Linked DNA regions of Homo sapiens: all the other regions are linked to region 1. Evidence: fine-mapped expression QTL. A gene starts in region 1. Each other region holds a variant in brackets. All regions are shown on one strand. Distances are from middle to middle.

Region 1 (4,000 bases):
GAGTTCAGAAGCCCTCCAGCACTAAGCTAAAAAATACCTGGGAGAAACTGGGGTTTAGTTGCTGTTGGCATTTAAGCTGTTTGCTAAAAGCAGCCATCTTGGTGAAAGATGATGTCATTTGGAACACTTGGTGTTTTCGAGTTTATTCTGAGGTGCCAGTTTCCAAGAGCCATTGAATCACCGTTTAATCATGAGATCAAATTTAGGTTTAAAGATAATGAGGGAGTGGGAATAAGAATCATTCTTCTTTCTTCCTAACACTTTAGAAATCTTTCAGAAAGTTCAACCCAACAGAAAAAAAAATTACACTTTTTTTTCTATTTTCTATTACCATGTGTTTGTTGTAATGTTAACTAAGCGTGGGTAATAAAACTAGTCTGGTCAGTTTCACTTTCCAATTTTTATACATAAGTGAAAGCTGTTTTGTGTCAACAGGGCAAAGTGTTTAGAATCATCTCACCTGCTGGGCCAATTTCCTGCAAGCCTTTCTTTGGGAAGAGGAAGGGGGAATAAAAGTTTTTGATTTTTAATTTCTTAAACTGCAAAGCTAGAACCATGAATTAGACCGCATTACAGTAATTACTGTTTTATTTTTACATGCTAAAGTTTTCTAGGAGTGAGCAAGAGGATAGCAAAGACGGGTGATGTTGCACTCCCACTCAATCATTACTATTTGTATAGCATAATGTTATGTCCGCAGTTACTTTGGAAAATTGGCACTTAAAGAGGTGTTTCAATCTTCTACTAAAAGTGTTTCGCCTTCCTTTTTTTTTTTCTTCATTAGGTAAATGTTACTGTCTTAATCCTACTACGAGACATGTGCTGGAAATGTTTGCAAAATGCAAAGAGAAAAAGAAAAAAACAGTTGCACCTTGTTTAAACAATTGAGCGCAGTGTGGTTTATGAGGTTATTAAAGGAGATGTGTGTCTCTCCTGCAAATTCTTACTTAACAAGGTTAACCTGTGGCTGCTGTTGTTTCATCCTCCTCGGCCTCTTGTAGAGGAACTTTGTTCTCTTAGGTTTATCCAAGCCTTCCTAGTCAAAAACACCTTGCTTTTGAGAATATAAAACTGCGTGTATGTGTGAAACAGATAGAGGGAGACACGCGCACACACAGTCGGCGGAAGATGGGGCCACAACACGGTAGAGGATGGGTGCCGGAGCCCGGCTGACCTTTCCACGTGTCCCCGGCACCTGCGAGGCTGGTGGGGCATCAGGTTTCCTTTTTCTCGGGGCGGGCGCGAGCCCGGAAGAGGCTGGGCGGCCGTGGGCTTAGATCAGGGGGCTCGGAGGCCCTCCCTTGGAACACGTGTGGCTGGCGAGCTGGTGGTGCGGGGGCAGTCCTTGGCTTTCCCGCACCCGCAGTGCCTGCGCGTTCCCAGCCCGCCCGTGGTCACCAGACGGCGGCGGGCGGGTCCCGGAGCTTTCAGCCAGCTTTGCTGGGCGGCCTAGGGAGCGCGCCCAGCCCGGCTGGAGCGAGCCCCAGTGCAATACTGCCCAAGCCCGGGCGGGGTCTCTGTTCTCTGGCAGAGGAGGTCCCTTGGCAGCGGGAAGCGCCCTCTCTTTCTCTCGCCGCCGCTCCGAGTCTGCGCCCTGGTGCCAGGCGCTCAGCTCGGCGCTCCCCTGTGCTCGCCCGGCGCCCACTCATTCGCAGCCCGGCCTTCGTCGCCGCCGCCTCCCTGCTGCTCCTCCTCCTTTCCCCAGCCCGCCGCGGCCATGGCGGACAGCGCCAGCGAGAGCGACACGGACGGGGCGGGGGGCAACAGCAGCAGCTCGGCCGCCATGCAGTCGTCCTGCTCGTCGACCTCGGGCGGCGGCGGTGGCGGCGGGGGAGGCGGCGGCGGTGGGAAGTCGGGGGGCATTGTCATCTCGCCGTTCCGCCTGGAGGAGCTCACCAACCGCCTGGCCTCGCTGCAGCAAGAGAACAAGGTGCTGAAGATAGAGCTGGAGACCTACAAACTGAAGTGCAAGGCACTGCAGGAGGAGAACCGCGACCTGCGCAAAGCCAGCGTGACCATCGTGAGTGCCCCCCGGGGACGCGCCGCAGCGCCGACCTCCGCCCGCCCCGGGAGGGGCTGCACCCGAATCCAGCCACCCCCCAAGTCTTCCCCAGATTCCCGGGGACCCTCTGAGAGCACACTCCCTGCGGGGACCTGCTGGCTTCCGGGAGGAGAGGGAGGTATCCCTTCGGGGCCACGCGGGTCTGTCCTCCTCGGGGGTCTGAGGACCCTTGCGCGGTGCGGGGGAAGGCTACTGTGGCAACCATTCATGGTCCCTTTTAGCCTCTGGAGAGGAGGCCCCTCCGGGGCTGGGCTGGAGGCTGGCGGCGTGGCTGGGGGGCGGGGTAGGACTTTTTTCAGCCCTAGCATGTTTGAGGGGTGCGTCCAGAATCTGGGGAACCCCAGTCCTGGAAGAGGGAGGAAGCTGGGATCTCTTACTGGGTCCTGGCTCGGAGTGTGGGGGTTCGCAGCTGGACTGGGCACTAAGCTGGCATCTGGACTGCGCTAGCTGGATCGCCCGGGGAGGGGGCGGGAGAGAGTGGCCGGGAATCCGGGAAGTGGAGTTTTCTGGCCGGGATCGAGAGGGAAGGGCGGGTACGGCGCTAATGCTCCCACCTCTGTTGGAAGCTCTTTGCTTTGGGTTGGGAGGGTGGACGGTTTACAGCGAGGAGAGTGCAGCATCCACGCCTGGACAGGGCTGGGGCCGAAACCAGGGGAAGGGTAGTGACTGTGACTCCCTGGCTGAGCCAGAGGTACGTGTGTTTGCTTCATTCGTGGAGTGGTTAGAAGTATCTTGCTTCTGAGTCTAGATACTGGAGAACAGGCCATCTGTTCTGTTTCTACCTGTCCCCTGGAGGCTGCCCAGAAACGGGTAAGCTTGGGTCTGTAGGTCTCTCTCCTGGTGTGGCAGGCGTTTAGAAAGGCCCCTATAGCAGTGATGAGGCGAAACGTAACTAGAAAAAGTACACTGTGTACTCTCACCTATCATCCCTGCCAGCTCACCACATCATTAACATGAAGGATCCCCACACAGACAACTGTATTCAAATCAAAAGTTCCCCAGCCAGAAGCAGAGAAGATGATGTCAAGAAATCAAGGGGGATAAATGGCCATAGCTGCTGCAAAATAGCGGATTAGGCTGAACTTTGAAATGAAGAAAAAGGGATGAATTTGGGGATAGAGGGTCACACCTTGGAAATGGAGCAAGTTTAGGATGCCCCTTGTGCCAGGAAATGCCTTCGGTGGAGGAGGCTGTGTATATGTGTGCGCACGCGTGTGTACACCCCCAGTGCTGGCTCATACATGAGAACTAGATGGCATTCTTAATTTGTGTAGAAAGCAAGTTGCAAGTTAAGTGTGATCAGTAGCCTAAATAGCAGTTGATTGTAAAAAGAAACTTTTCATGCTCAAATCCAATTTTGGAGAATGGAATTGGAGCAACTTTCATGTGAGATGGTAAAGTTCTTGAAGTGCCCTTTTGGTAGGAAGGTGGGGGGCGGGGAATTTGCAGAGGCAGCCACTTCCAAGCCTCCTATGCAGCTTTCTTCGCTGACAGAGATGTCTTTGCTGAGTGGGGGTTAAGAAGAGAGGGAAGTTGTTGGAGGCAGTTTAAGGTTTGAGTTAGTAAATGAGAGGGTTAGTCTCTTGGAGACTGTGAGCCATGGAAAGTAGTAAGACTTGCATGAAGCAAAATAGCCTTTTGCATGCAGTGGGCAATTCAGGCTGGTTTTGTTTGGGAGGGAGGAATGAGGGATGCAGAGACTATGAAAGGGTTATCTGTTTGACACTTAGACCGTATTATAACTAGGTTTGTAAATTGTGCTTAAACATGTTGGCTTTGCAGGAACAAATGTGTTCATTCCCGGTGTTTAAGATCAGAGGCCTTCTGAGTACTTGGCTAGAAGAGCGTATAAGGTGGTGGCTTGCTTTCTTAGCACTTACCCTTAACTACACTGACATCCAACCGAATATACTTTGTGAAATGTCGTGTGGTGTTAAT
Region 2 (4,213 bases), 110 kb after region 1:
CATTGCTAAGATCAATGTCAGGGAGCTTTTCCCCTATTTTCCTTCTAAGAGTTTTATAGTTTAAGGTCTTATAGTTAAGTCTTTAATCCATTTTGAGTTGACTTTTGTATATAGTGTAAGAGATAAGGTCCAGTGTCACTCCTCTGCATGTGAATATCCAGTTTTCCCAACACCATCTGTTGAAGAGACTGTTCTCTTTCCCCGTTGTGTATTCTTGGTGCCCTTTTTGAAGATCAGTTGACCATATACGTGTGAGTTTATTTCTGGGCTCTCTGTTCTATCCTAGGAATTAACATTTATTTCCCTTGTTATCCACACCATTTAGTGAGCCCATCATTCTTTTCATCTGTTTGTATTTTTGTGGGTGATAGAGAACTACTGCGATTTAAAACCTCCTAGATAGTTGAAGACACCAGATAGTTGAGCTTAAAATGATACTTAATTTGTTGTTATATTTTAGGTCTATCATATGCAAGTCACACGGTTGGTTTCACGCCACCAACTTCACTGACTAGAGCTGGAATGTCTTATTACAATTCCCCGGGTCTTCACGTGCAGCACATGGGAACATCCCATGGTATCACAGTAAGTGTCCGTGGGGTAGGAAGCAGCACTTTACTCCTGAAAGTGGTACCGACTGGTGTTCTGGAGAACAGGATCGGTGCCCTTAGACATTTGCCCTTCTTCCTGCCTCCTCCATCCGTTCACCTTGAAACTGTAGAGACTTAAACAGTTTGATACCAAATTCTGGTATTGAAACTAAAATCCTTCCCAGGAGACAAAACTTTAACTTCACTTCCTATGAAAAATTACCCTTTGTGAAATATAATTTGAACTCTGGCCAGTGCTTTGATTGAACTCTGGCCAGCTCCTTGCATTATTGTTGGTTGCCATAATGTCTAAAGATATTTATTGTCTGCACCTTCACAGTTCACTGACCTTCAGTATTCTTCCTGAAGTTAGCCTTGTTTGTAATGTTACTCAGAATTTTCTCTCCTCGAATTACAAGGAAGCTTAAGTGCATCTGGTTCCAACTCTACCCAAGGGAGTTTTTTCTTTAGAGTCGGCAATATAGTTGACTAATAGAGCCATTAGAAATGTAGCTAGTAGAGTGAGAGTATTATTAAGGGTATTTCCAATAACAGAAATACCAATATTTCAAAGAATAAATTATAATATTTTAAAGAAGAACCCTATTCTAAGAATGCACTTAAGGTATTTCTGAAGCTGTTTGGCCAGTTTGATGGACTTTATGTAAAAGTAGGAACTTTTTTTTTTTTTTTCCTCACTCTGTCATCCAGGCTGGAGTTCAGCAGCATGATGTCTGCTCACTGCAACATCCGCCTCCGGAGCTCAAGGGATTCTCTTGCCTCAGCCTCCCGAGTAGCTGGTATTACAGGCACACGGCACCACACCTGGCTGCTTTTTGTATTTTTAATAGAGACGGGGTTTTGCCCTGTTGGCCAGGCTGGTCTCGAACTCCTGGCCTCAGGTTATCCACCCACCTCTACCTCCTAAAGTGCTAGGATTACAGGTGTGAGCCACTGCACCCGGCCTCAAACATAGAAACATTTCTGTTGAGCTGTATCTTTCAGGATGTGGACAACTTATTGGAGATAAGCAATAGAGGGAATTGGTGACACACACGGAAAGAAAGATTTAAGGGGATATTTTACAGCTCTCGTTGAAGGACCCAAGTCCAGCAGTTTGTTCAACACAAGTTGTGCAGTAATTTTATGTAGCTTTTTCATAGGTGGAAGTGTAAACACTGCCTTATTTAAATTTTATTACTAGTTCAGAAACCAGTAGGGATGAAGAAAGAAATCCCTGGTTTCTTGTCTTTGTTGGTTAGTGTTTGATTAGCCCCAGTGCCAAGTCAGGCTGTGTTAGGTAGAATGAGATCCACCTGTACCTAGACTGACTTGCTGTTCCTGTCCCCTCTGCAGAGGCCTTCACCACGGAGAAGCAACAGTCCTGACAAATTCAAACGGCCCACGCCGCCTCCATCTCCCAACACACAGACCCCAGTCCAGCCACCTCCGCCTCCACCTC[C/T]GCCACCCATGCAGCCCACGGTCCCCTCAGCAGCCACCTCGCAGCCTACTCCTTCGCAACATTCGGCGCACCCCTCCTCCCAGCCTTAATGCATGAGCTTAGTCTGAATTTCAAGTTGGGACTCATCCAATGGAGCCGTCTACTCAACGCCAAAGGCTTCCTTCTCTGGCATATTTGGATATGACTTATTTGCACTGAGGTTATCTAGGCTTCACTATCCATTGTGTTGTAAATGTTTGTCAGAAATGCAGCCAGTGTTGTGGGTCTACAACACTAACCAGACGACTTTTTCCATCAGTGTTTTACTTGAATCTTCATGTACGTCCATTCCCTGGCTGGAACCTTCGCTGTTTGGTATTTGGTATTTCAGCAGCAGTGTGCAATTTTTGCTTGGCCCAGAGCTTCATTCTCCTGGCTTTTAGGTTTGTAAAAGAAAAAGGGATATCTTTTTTATATTTTTTTCCATGAATCTGCAGAAAATTACTGAGCTGTTGTTACCCTCCTCTCATTATAATAGTGTTTACCAAACATACCAATAATTCAGCACTACAATTCAGACCTTTGAAAATCTGGCTTTCAGTGTAGAACAGAAAGTTAGATGAATCAGTGCCCAAGACATATTTTCTGTTTAACAGAACTTTCTACAGATACATTTTTTACAGGTTATTTTCATTGTGTTATTGACATCCATGTCTCTCGTAAAACAGATGGCCCAAAGTAATGAATCATGTGGCTGTACCTTCTCCACATAAATGGGATGGATAATTATCGTATATTAAGATGTGATTCTCTTTTTTATCCTTAATGTTAATCTACTTAACCTGGCCCCCTCTAACATGAGTCGATAAATGTTGTCCTACTCACCGGTGGTTTCAATGGCTAATTAGAATGTGTTATTTGATTTCTGCTGCAGAAGGCAGTGTGATTGTAACAAAAACAATGCGGCTTCCCCCTTTCGTACTTCATTTGTGTTCTCTTAAAATAGAGTTTGAACAAATATTTTAAAGGTGCAAAATACCATTAGAAAATACTATTTGAAATGGACATTATCGCATTATCTTGGCATAATGGCCAGAAAATATTGTATTGCTTGGCAGAAAAGAAAATAAGGTCTAAAGGAAAGTAGCACATTAGCATTGATGGCTGTTCATTTCACCCAGTATAAGCAAGTGCAGTGTACAAAGAAGTATATTCTGAATACATTATTTCCATTCATTTAGCACAAATAAATCATTTGGTTTCACTTTGCAGTGGAACACTGAGTCACTCTTTTCTTAACACGTGCAACATCTTAATTTTTGTTTTTCAGCAGTTGCTGTTTTGTACTTTGGTAGTAAAGTGATTTTTACCACCTGTGTTTGCATATTTATATATGCTGTGGATGAAAATAACTTACTAGAGAATGTATATTTTATGACAAGAATGTGTATCTGTTGGATATAATCAGAGAACTGAAAAGTAATTTATCAGTAATTTTTAAGAGTCCATGTTTTGTGACAACCATCTCTAATAGCCAACTCTTTATTAAACACACTCCTAAAAATAAGGAACCATGACATTGTAGATATTTAATATTGTACAGTATAGAAACCTCCATTTTTGCCTTCGAATGCATATTTAAGAGTTAACAGAATGAAAAAAAAAAGTCTTGTTGGATAATAGTGTTTGACTAGCGTTTTAAGAACTTGAGAGTAAAAGCAACAATAAGATTTTTTCACCTCTTCCTGCTTCCACCCCCAAACTGAGAACATCACTCAATTGTTTGGAAGAAACTGTAGGTCTATATAAATTTTATTTATAATGTATGTGTAATATACATAATCATAATACAGTTCTCAGATGCAGGGAAGAAGTTTGGCATTTAATCATTGAGGCTTTAGGTTTTTGATGTGATCAGACTGGGCCATGTCAAACCCGGAATTTTCACCAACAGTTCACTCACCCTCCTGGTACATTGCCATTCCAAGGAATTCTGAGAGTAGGCAAACAAATTTTGCCTTCATGGTACAGTTCTCAGTTTTTCTTATAGGAGAAATATGGTATATGTTTATAAGAATCTTTTATGAGATTATAGATTTCAATGCTGTGGATAGTGTCTTGCACCCAAACAAGAAAGTCCATAATGGAATGATCTTCCCTCAGCTTCCTATCGATTTAGTTA
Region 3 (4,205 bases), 24 kb before region 1:
CCTATCTTCACGTTTGTCTCTCAGAGTTCTGAAACTAACACAGAGATCAACGGAGATACTGAGTTTTTAAAATTGGCCATCTGGCCGGGCACAGTGGCTCACGCCTGTAATCCCAGCACTTTGGGAGGCCAACGCGGGCAGATCACGAGGTCAGAAGATCGCGACCATCCTGGCTAACACGGTGAAACCCCGTCTCTACTAAAAATACAAAAAAAAAATTAGCTGGGAGTGATGGCACGCGCCTGTAGTCCCAGCTACTCGGGAGACTGAGACAGAACAATCACTTGAACCCAGGAGGCGGAGGTTGCAGTGAGCCAAGATGCACCACTGCACTCCAGCCTGGGCAACAGGGCAAGATTCCATCTCACACACACACACACACAAAATTGGCCATCTGTTGATGATAATCGTCAAAGGTAAATGATGGGTATATTTTATCATCCACTGTACGGTCTAAAAAATAGGAAGTCAAATGAACAAACATTTTTCAAAAGAAAACATAACGTGCAGCCGGGCCGGGCGCGGTGGCTCACGCCTGTAATCCCAGCACTTTGGGAGGCCGAGGCGGGCAGATCACAAGATCAGGAGATTGAGACCATCCTGGCTAACACGGTGAAACCCTGTCTCTACTAAAAATACAAAAAAAAAGTTAGCCGGGTGTGGTGGCGGGTGCCTGTAGTCCTAGCTACTCGGGAGTCTGAGGCAGGAGAATGGCGTGAACCCTGGAGGCGGAGCGTGAAGTGAGCCGAGATCGCTGCCACTGCACTCCAGCCTGGGTGACAGAGCGAGACTCCGTCTCAAAAAAAAAAAAAAAAAAAAAAAAAGAAAGAAAACTTAACATACAGCCAATAAGCATATGAAAAAATGCTCAACATCACTAATCATTAGAGAAACGCAAATCTAAACCACAATAAGATACCATCTCACACCAGTCAAAATAGCTATTACTAAAAGGTAAAAAATAACAGATATTGGCGAGGCTGCAAAGAAAAGGGAAGGCTTATACATTGCTGGTGACAGTGTAAATTAGTTCAGCCACTGTGAATAGCAGTTTGGTAATACCTCAAAAAACTTAAAACAGATTACCATTCAACCCAGCAATCCCATTATTGGGTATATACCCAAAGGAATATAGATTGTTCTATCATAAAGACACATGCACACATATGGTCACTGCAGTACCATTCACAATAGTGAAGACGTGGAATAAAGCTAAATGCCCATCAACAGTACACTGGATAAAGAAAATGTGGTATACCATGGAATACTATGCAGCCATAAAAAAGACAAGGTCATGTCATTTGCAGCAACATGGATGGAGCCAGAGGCCATTATCCTAAGTAAACTAACACAGGAACAGAAAACCAAATACCACGTGTTCTCATTTATAAGTGGGAGCTAAACACTGAGTATGCATAAACACAAAAAATGGAACAACAGACACTAGGGCCTACTTGAGGGTGGACAGTGAGGATCGAAATACTACCTATTGGGTACTATGCTCATTACATGGGTGATGAAATAAACTGTACACCAAACCCCACAACACATAATTTACTTATTTAACAAACCTGCCTGTGTACCCCCAGAAACCAAAATAAAAGTTAAAAATTTTTGCTGACTGGGCACAGTGGCTCACACCTGTAATCCCAGCACTTTGGGAAGCTGAGGTGGGAGAATCACCTAAGGTCAGGAGTTCGAGACCAGCCTGGCCAACACAGTGAAACCTCGTCTCTATTAAAAATACAAAAATTAGCTGGGTGTGGTTGTACATGCCTGCAATCCCAGCTACACAGGAGGCTGAGGCAGGAGGATTGCTTGAACCTGGGAGGTGGAGGTTGCAGTGAGCTGAGATTGCGCCACTGCACTCCAGCCTGGGCGACAGAGTGAGACTCCATCTAAAAAAAAAAAAAAAAAAAAAAAGGAATAAAATGCCTAATAAAAATAAATAAAATTTGGCCGGACGCGGTGGCTCACGCCTGTAATCCCAGCACTTTGGGAGGCCGAGGCGGGCGGATCACGAGGTCAGGAGATCGAGACCATCCTGGCTAACAAAGTGAAACCCCGTCTCTACTAAAAAAAAATACAAAAAGTTAGCCGGGCGTAATGGCGGGCGTCTGTAGTCCCACCTACTCGGGAGGCTGAGGCAGGAGAATGGCGTGAACCCCGGGGGGTGGAGCCTGCAGTGAGCCGAGATAGCGCCACTGCACTCCAGCTTGGGCGACAGCGAGACTCCGTCTCAAAAAGAAAAAAATAAATAAATAAATAAATAAATAAATAAAATTTATCAAAAAAATAGGAAGTCCATTGTCATCTCTATTGTATTAAAATATCTATAGTGAAAAGTTCACATTAAAAGAAAAGAAGAAAGAGAAAAATGAAGGCAAGAAGAAAGGAAAGAAAGAAGGAAGGAAAAGATAGAGTGACAAACATACATAAAATAATCACTCAGGCTTAACATACCCTGCTTTGTTCATCATATGAGAACATGCATATAAAAACAAATACAACTCTGAAGCCTACCTTTGTGTGTGTGTGTGTGTGTGTGTGTGTGTGTGTG[TGTGA/A]CTTTGAACAATATCTACTAGTATTTGTCTCTCATTCCTCCCTTTCCCAAGTCCCTGAAAACTATTAGTCTGCTTTCTACCCCTGTGATCTCCCTAACTGAACATTTCATATAAATGGAATCATACAATGTGTGTATTTTATGTCTTCTTTCTTTTAGCATAATGTTTCCAAGGTTCATTCATGTCGTAGTATATACCAGCACTTAATTTCTTGTAGTGGCTATATCCATTGTATGGATATACAGCATTTTATTTATCCATTCATCAGTACATTGACATTTAGGTTGCTTCTACTTTTTGACTATTCTGAAAATGCTACTATGAACGTTTGTTTCCAAGTTTTTGTATGGATATATGTTTTCAATTCTCTCTGTTAAATACCTAGAAATGGAATTACTGGGTACTATAGTAACCCTAGGTTTAACATTTTGAGAGACAGCCAACCTGTTTTCCAGTGTTTGCCAATTTATAACCCAACTATCAATGTATGAAGATTCCAATTTATCCACCTCCTAACCAACACTTGATAATGTCTGTTTTTGTTTGTTTGCAGTGTTATGAAGTAGTATCTTATGGTTTTGATTTTTAATTCCCTACTGACTAATGATATTGAGCATTTTTTCATGTGTTGTTAGCTATTTGTATGTCTTCTTTTAGAAAGATGCCTAGGTAAATCTTTTATTCTTTTTTCTTTGCTCATTTTTTAAATTGAGAAATTTTCTTTTATTGTTAAGTAATAAGAGTCCTTTAGATATTCTAGATACATTCCATTGTTAGCTATATAAATTGCAAATATTTTCTCTCATTATGCAATTATTTTACATTTTCTCGATGGTGTTCTTTGAAATGCAAAAGTATTTAAATTCTAATGAATTCTAGTTTATCTATTTTTGTTTTACTTGTGCTTTTGTTATCATGTCTAAGAAACCAATCTTAATACAAATTTTTTTTTTTGAGGTGGAGTTCCACTCTTATTGCCCAGGCTAGAGTGCAATGGCACCATCTTGGCTCACTGCAACCTCTATCTCCTGGGTTCAAGCAATTCTCCTGCCTCAGCCTCCCAAATAGCTGGGATTACAGGCACCCACCACTATGCCCAGCCAATTTTATGTATTTTTAGTAGAGACAGGGTTTCACCATGTCGGCCAGGCTGGTCTCGAACTCCTGACCTCAGGTGATCTGCCCACCTTGGCCTCCCAAAGTGCTGGAATTACAGGCGGGAGCCACTGCACCTGGCCTTAATGCTTAATACAATTTTATGAAGATATTTTCTTTTAGGAGAATCCTTAAAAGAAAGTTTTGGCTGGGTGTGGTGGCTCACACCTGTAATCCCAGTACTTTGGGAGGCTGAGGTGGGCGGATCACAAGGTCAGGAGTTTGAGACCAGCCTGGCCAACGTGATGAAAACCCATCTCTACTAAAAATACAAAATTAGCCTGGCATGGTGGCAGGCACCTGTAATCCCAGCCACTTGGGAGGCTGAGGCAGGAGAATCACTTGAACCCGGGAGGCAGAGCTTGCGGTGAGCCAAGACTGCACCACTGCACTCCAGCCTGGGCAACAGAGTGAGACTCCGCCTCAAAAAAAAAAAAAAAAAAGAAAGAAAGTTTTATTCCTTTTCATTTGGGTCTAAAATCTATT
Region 4 (4,225 bases), 33 kb after region 1:
AGTCATCATTAGGCATCACTCTGATCTCTTCTCTGCCTCCATTTTCCATTTTAAAGGACCTCTGTGATTATACGGGTCCCATTCAGAGAACCCAAGATAATTTCCTTATTTTAAAGTCAGTTGATGGGCAACCTTAATTCTATCTGTTCCCTTAATTCCCCTTTGCATGTAAGTAACATTTTCATAGGTTCTGGGGATTCAAATGTAGACAGCTTGAGGCAAAGTTTGCAGGAGGGAGCATTCTGCCTTCACTGGCAGAATAGGAGTATTGTTAGTGAATTGGTTGTTTGCATTGGTATGGATGGCATTTCTGTGAATATCTTTGTATATTGATCTCTGTATATCTTTGGTTAATCCATGAACCACCTTTCTGTAAACGGAGGATTTCAATGTGATAATTTTAATATGTTTGATAAAAATGATAAAATTACAGAAACTCTAGTCTTGGTTGGATAGGAGAACAAAAGGCAAGTTTAGTGCCAAAGAAAACATTTTAGAACTGGGAGAAGATCAATTTGTGCCTTTGTTACATTCCTGTTAGAGTGTAAGGTCCTGTCTCATTATAGTTTTATTATATTCCCTGTGCCTTCTGGCATATGGAATCTATGTAGGGGTGTGTGCGTGTGTGTGTGTGTGTGTGTGTGTGTTTGCTAGGTAAATGTGTAAGGAAATGAATGTCTACGCTTCGGACATGCTTCACCATTCTTTCACTTCGTTTTCTTTCAGTATTAGATGTCATAGATCTTCACTGACCATGGTTGATTTTGCAGCATTTGGGATTTTGACAGCTGTATTGTGTCTAAATGTGCTACTGCCTCAACATCATAGGAATGGGGAACATTCATTCTCATATAGAAGATTTAAGATGTACTTGGATTGTTTTAACTATTCTGTTTTGATAATTTTAAAAGCTACATATGTGTTCTCTGTCCTTCTTTTTTTTTAAAAATTAGCAGTCTATTACAAAATCATCACAAATTTAGGTAAATACCATTGTCAGAAACCAAGATTGAAAAACCTGCATTTACTTTGAAATATTCAGAATAAAGTGGCATATTAAAATACTAAATATTAAAATATAGCTCCACAGTCTCTTATCCCATGAGGCCAGATATGTTTTAGAATTTAGGTTTTTTTGGTGGTGGGAGTTGGGTCTGTTTGTTTCCCAAGGCTGTTGTAACAATGTTTCACAGACTGAGTGGCATAAAACAATAGAAATTAATTTTCTCACAGTTCTGGAGGGGCCAGAAGTCCAAAATCAAGGTGTTGGTAAGGGTTGTTCTCCCTTGGAAACCTCTGGCCGGGGAAGATCCTTCTGTGATTCTTCTAGTTTCTAGTATCTCCAGGCGTTCCTTGGCTTGCAGCTGCAGCACTTCAGTTCCTGCCTCTGAAGTCATGTGGTCATCTTCTCCTTGTATGTTTCTGTCTGTATTTTCCCTTCTTATAAGGACAGCAGTCGTATTGGATTGGGGCCCACTCCAGTGATCTCATCTTAGCTTGATTACATCTGCAAAGAACCTATTTCCAAATAAGGTCACATTCACAAGTATGTGGGGTTAGGAATTGAACATATCTTTTTCAAGGACACAGTCCATCCCATAAAAGGGAGTGGAGCTATGGAAAGGTACTGAGCACCTACCACGTATACTGTAGCACCGCCAGAGGATTGAAACAGCAGACACATCAAACCACCTCAGCAAAACATGTGAACAGGCATGCTAAGTTTGATGATAAAGCTGCAAAGAGCCTCATGTCAATTCAGATCAGGCTTGCCACCAAGTGAACGCAGTTGTTTGGTTGCTTGCCAAATGTAGCTTTCGGTTTTCAGTCTTCTGGGTTTTGGAATTGTGTTTAAAGGATCGAGGACCTGTGCTAGATTTTCACCTTAATTCCTAATGACAGCTTAGCAATATTTCTTAGAAGTTCTAGCAGGGAAGAGTTACTGCTTATGCACTTTCTAATGTTGTTACCTTCCCCCACCCCCCCATCTGGAAAGTTATCCTCTTTGACTGGATGCAGCCCCAGGTATCAAGGTGGTGAGATGTAGTTTGACCATGAAATCCTTGTGTCCAACTAGAATAGAAACTTGATGCTGAAAGTTAACCCCTTGCTAGAGGTTAAACCTTCCGTCCCTCTTTACTCACTGAAAACTAGAAAATGTTCATACATCAATAACCTCCAACTCACAAAGCCAGCCTTATAGTTAAAGCAGTGTGTCTTTTACTTCTTCGGAGGAATTGGCTTCCATAGAAAGTCAGTTCAGAAGCCCAACCCCTGGACACCTTCGCACGAGCAAGGAGACAAGGAACAGGATGTAAATTGGCTACCATTTTCTTACCTGCAACAGCACAGGAAACAGACACAGCTTTGTAGCTGCAAATGTAGGCAGCTGTTTGCTTAAGTCTCCGTATCTTAACTGAATACTGATACCCAAGGTTGGGGAATCTGCTGGAAGAAACATCCAGCTAGCACAGCCTCAGACTGTTCAAGCATGTTCATTGTAACGATTCTTCAAAGGGCAGAAGCATTGGAAACA[A/G]CTGGAAGGAATGTCAGGCAGTAGAGAGATGGTTTTGGCACATCAGTGAGATAGGTTGTTTACAACATCAAAAATTATTGGAGGAACATTTAATCATAGAGATAGTTAAAATCTAGTAAGTGGAGTGAGGATACAGTGTGCGTGTAATGTGAACCAATTTTGTAAAATGTGTAAGCACAGAGGTTACAAGGGATGGATAACATTAGCAGTGCTTTTAATAATTGGCTCCTTATTTTCTTTATACTTGAGAATTTTCTAGTTTCCTGTAATCCATTTCCCTTCTTCCTCCCTTTAAGTCCCTTGTTTGAGGAGCCTTTTACTTTTGGAGGAGAACTTGTATCCTTATATTTAATCAGAGTGCTATTTTTTTTTCTTTTGCCAATTAGCAACTGAATTTGGGGAATACTTAGTGGGAATTTTTGTTCAAAGCAGCGTGGATCCCCTGCCCCCTCACAAGGCAGGATGTGTGCTGTGCCATAAAGGACTTCATATTATCTCCCATTTTACAGATGGGGAAATGTAGGCAGGCTGAAGAAAGAAAGTAGCTTGCCAAGGTTAATTAAGAGTTAACAGCAAAACCAGGACGAGGGCTAAGGTCTCCTGATTAGCTAGCGCTGTATCTTTTTATCTGCTCCAGGCTCTCCAACCAAACTGTTCAATGGAACCTTGGGGCCCCATCCCTCAGAGCTGACCCAGTTTGTCAGGGCAAGGGTCTGGGCATCAGTAGTGCATCAACTTTTTTTTTTTTTTTTTTTTTTTTTAATGAGTATTAGGTGATGCCAGTGAAATCTTGATGTTGAGCTTTGGGAATCCATTGCCTACAAAGCAGTCCCTCCGAGATTTGTGTGTACGTGTATACACATGTAAACACAAGGTGAATGTTTATTTTTACGTACTTGAGTGCTTCGTATATACAAGGCGGTGTTCTTAGCTCTGCGAATGTGGTGTGACAGATTAGCCTCTTTAACAACTCCAGAGGCACTGTTAACATTTCTTAGACACAGTTCTATTAATTTTTAAAATATTTACAATTATATACATAATACTTATACATGTTTATATAATATAAACTCTCCTCATGTATAATACATGAAAGCATTTTATTTATATATTCTTGTTAAATAAAACTTCACTCATGGGATCATAATGTGCATAGTCTTTAGCATTTTGCCTCTCCAATTTACTGTATCTCAGGCGAGCTTTTCATTTCTAAACATAGATCTGACTGACTCTCCTCTCATACTGATGAGTTTTCATTTCAGGAATTGTGTATGGCAGAGGCTAAACTGCTGATGGGGAGACCCCCAAATACAGCTGCTCAGTTCATGGTGCTCTCATTTAATAGTCCCGGGCTGGTGGTTGACTCCTCCATGAGGTTGTTCACTGGGGTCTTCCTATTTCATAGCTGTACCATCTTGCGGGATGTTAGCCTTGCCATTGTGGTGGGACCTGCCTTATAACTTCTAGTTCGATTCCAGCCTGTGAAAAGTGGGAAGCAGCATGGATAACTGCTTCTTTTTAAAAGCTATGACTCCAAAGTTGCATACCACTTCCATCCATCTCCTGTTTGTCAGAAATTAGCCCCATAGCCCCACCTACCTGTCCAGGAGTCTGGGATATGTAATCTAGCTGGGTGGTCCTCTAGATTGTAGGAGAGTCCTCTTTTCAAAAAGAGGATGAAGAAAGTTA

Alleles and levels. Alleles are on the strand shown, and positions count from the first base shown. SD is a standard deviation of normalised expression in the study named. Not every link is listed here.
As copies of A replace TGTGA in region 3, the expression in monocytes after LPS of the gene that starts at base 1,586 in region 1 goes up (moderate effect, 0.67 SD a copy in Fairfax 2014).

The links. PIP is the estimated chance that this variant, and not a neighbour inherited with it, causes the effect.
Region 2: its variant is fine-mapped to the expression of CCDC6 in testis (GTEx, PIP above 0.99).
Region 3: its variant is fine-mapped to the expression of CCDC6 in monocytes after LPS (Fairfax 2014, PIP 0.95).
Region 4: its variant is fine-mapped to the expression of CCDC6 in whole blood (TOPMed, PIP above 0.99).

The regions. Positions count from the first base shown.
Region 1 is chr10:59,904,142-59,908,141 of GRCh38, reverse strand. It overlaps CCDC6 (coiled-coil domain containing 6), which reads left to right and starts at 1,586. Exons shown (of 9, transcript NM_005436.5): 1 at 1,586-2,020. The coding sequence starts at 1,718. RefSeq lists silencers at 997-1,291, 1,474-1,813, 1,844-2,123 and an enhancer at 2,644-2,873.
Region 2 is chr10:59,790,845-59,795,057 of GRCh38, reverse strand. CCDC6 (coiled-coil domain containing 6) reads left to right here. Exons shown (of 9, transcript NM_005436.5): 8 at 461-585; 9 at 1,947-4,213. The coding sequence ends at 2,141. Among named protein-coding and RNA genes, the nearest start is that of MRLN, 39 kb to the right of the region's middle. The variant C/T (reference allele first, on the strand shown) is at 2,053.
Region 3 is chr10:59,928,402-59,932,606 of GRCh38, reverse strand. No RefSeq gene overlaps it. Among named protein-coding and RNA genes, the nearest start is that of CCDC6, 24 kb to the right of the region's middle. The variant TGTGA/A (reference allele first, on the strand shown) is at 2,561.
Region 4 is chr10:59,870,541-59,874,765 of GRCh38, reverse strand. The region is part of intron 1 of CCDC6 (coiled-coil domain containing 6); the gene reads left to right. Among named protein-coding and RNA genes, the nearest start is that of CCDC6, 34 kb to the left of the region's middle. RefSeq lists an enhancer at 1,481-1,775. The variant A/G (reference allele first, on the strand shown) is at 2,537.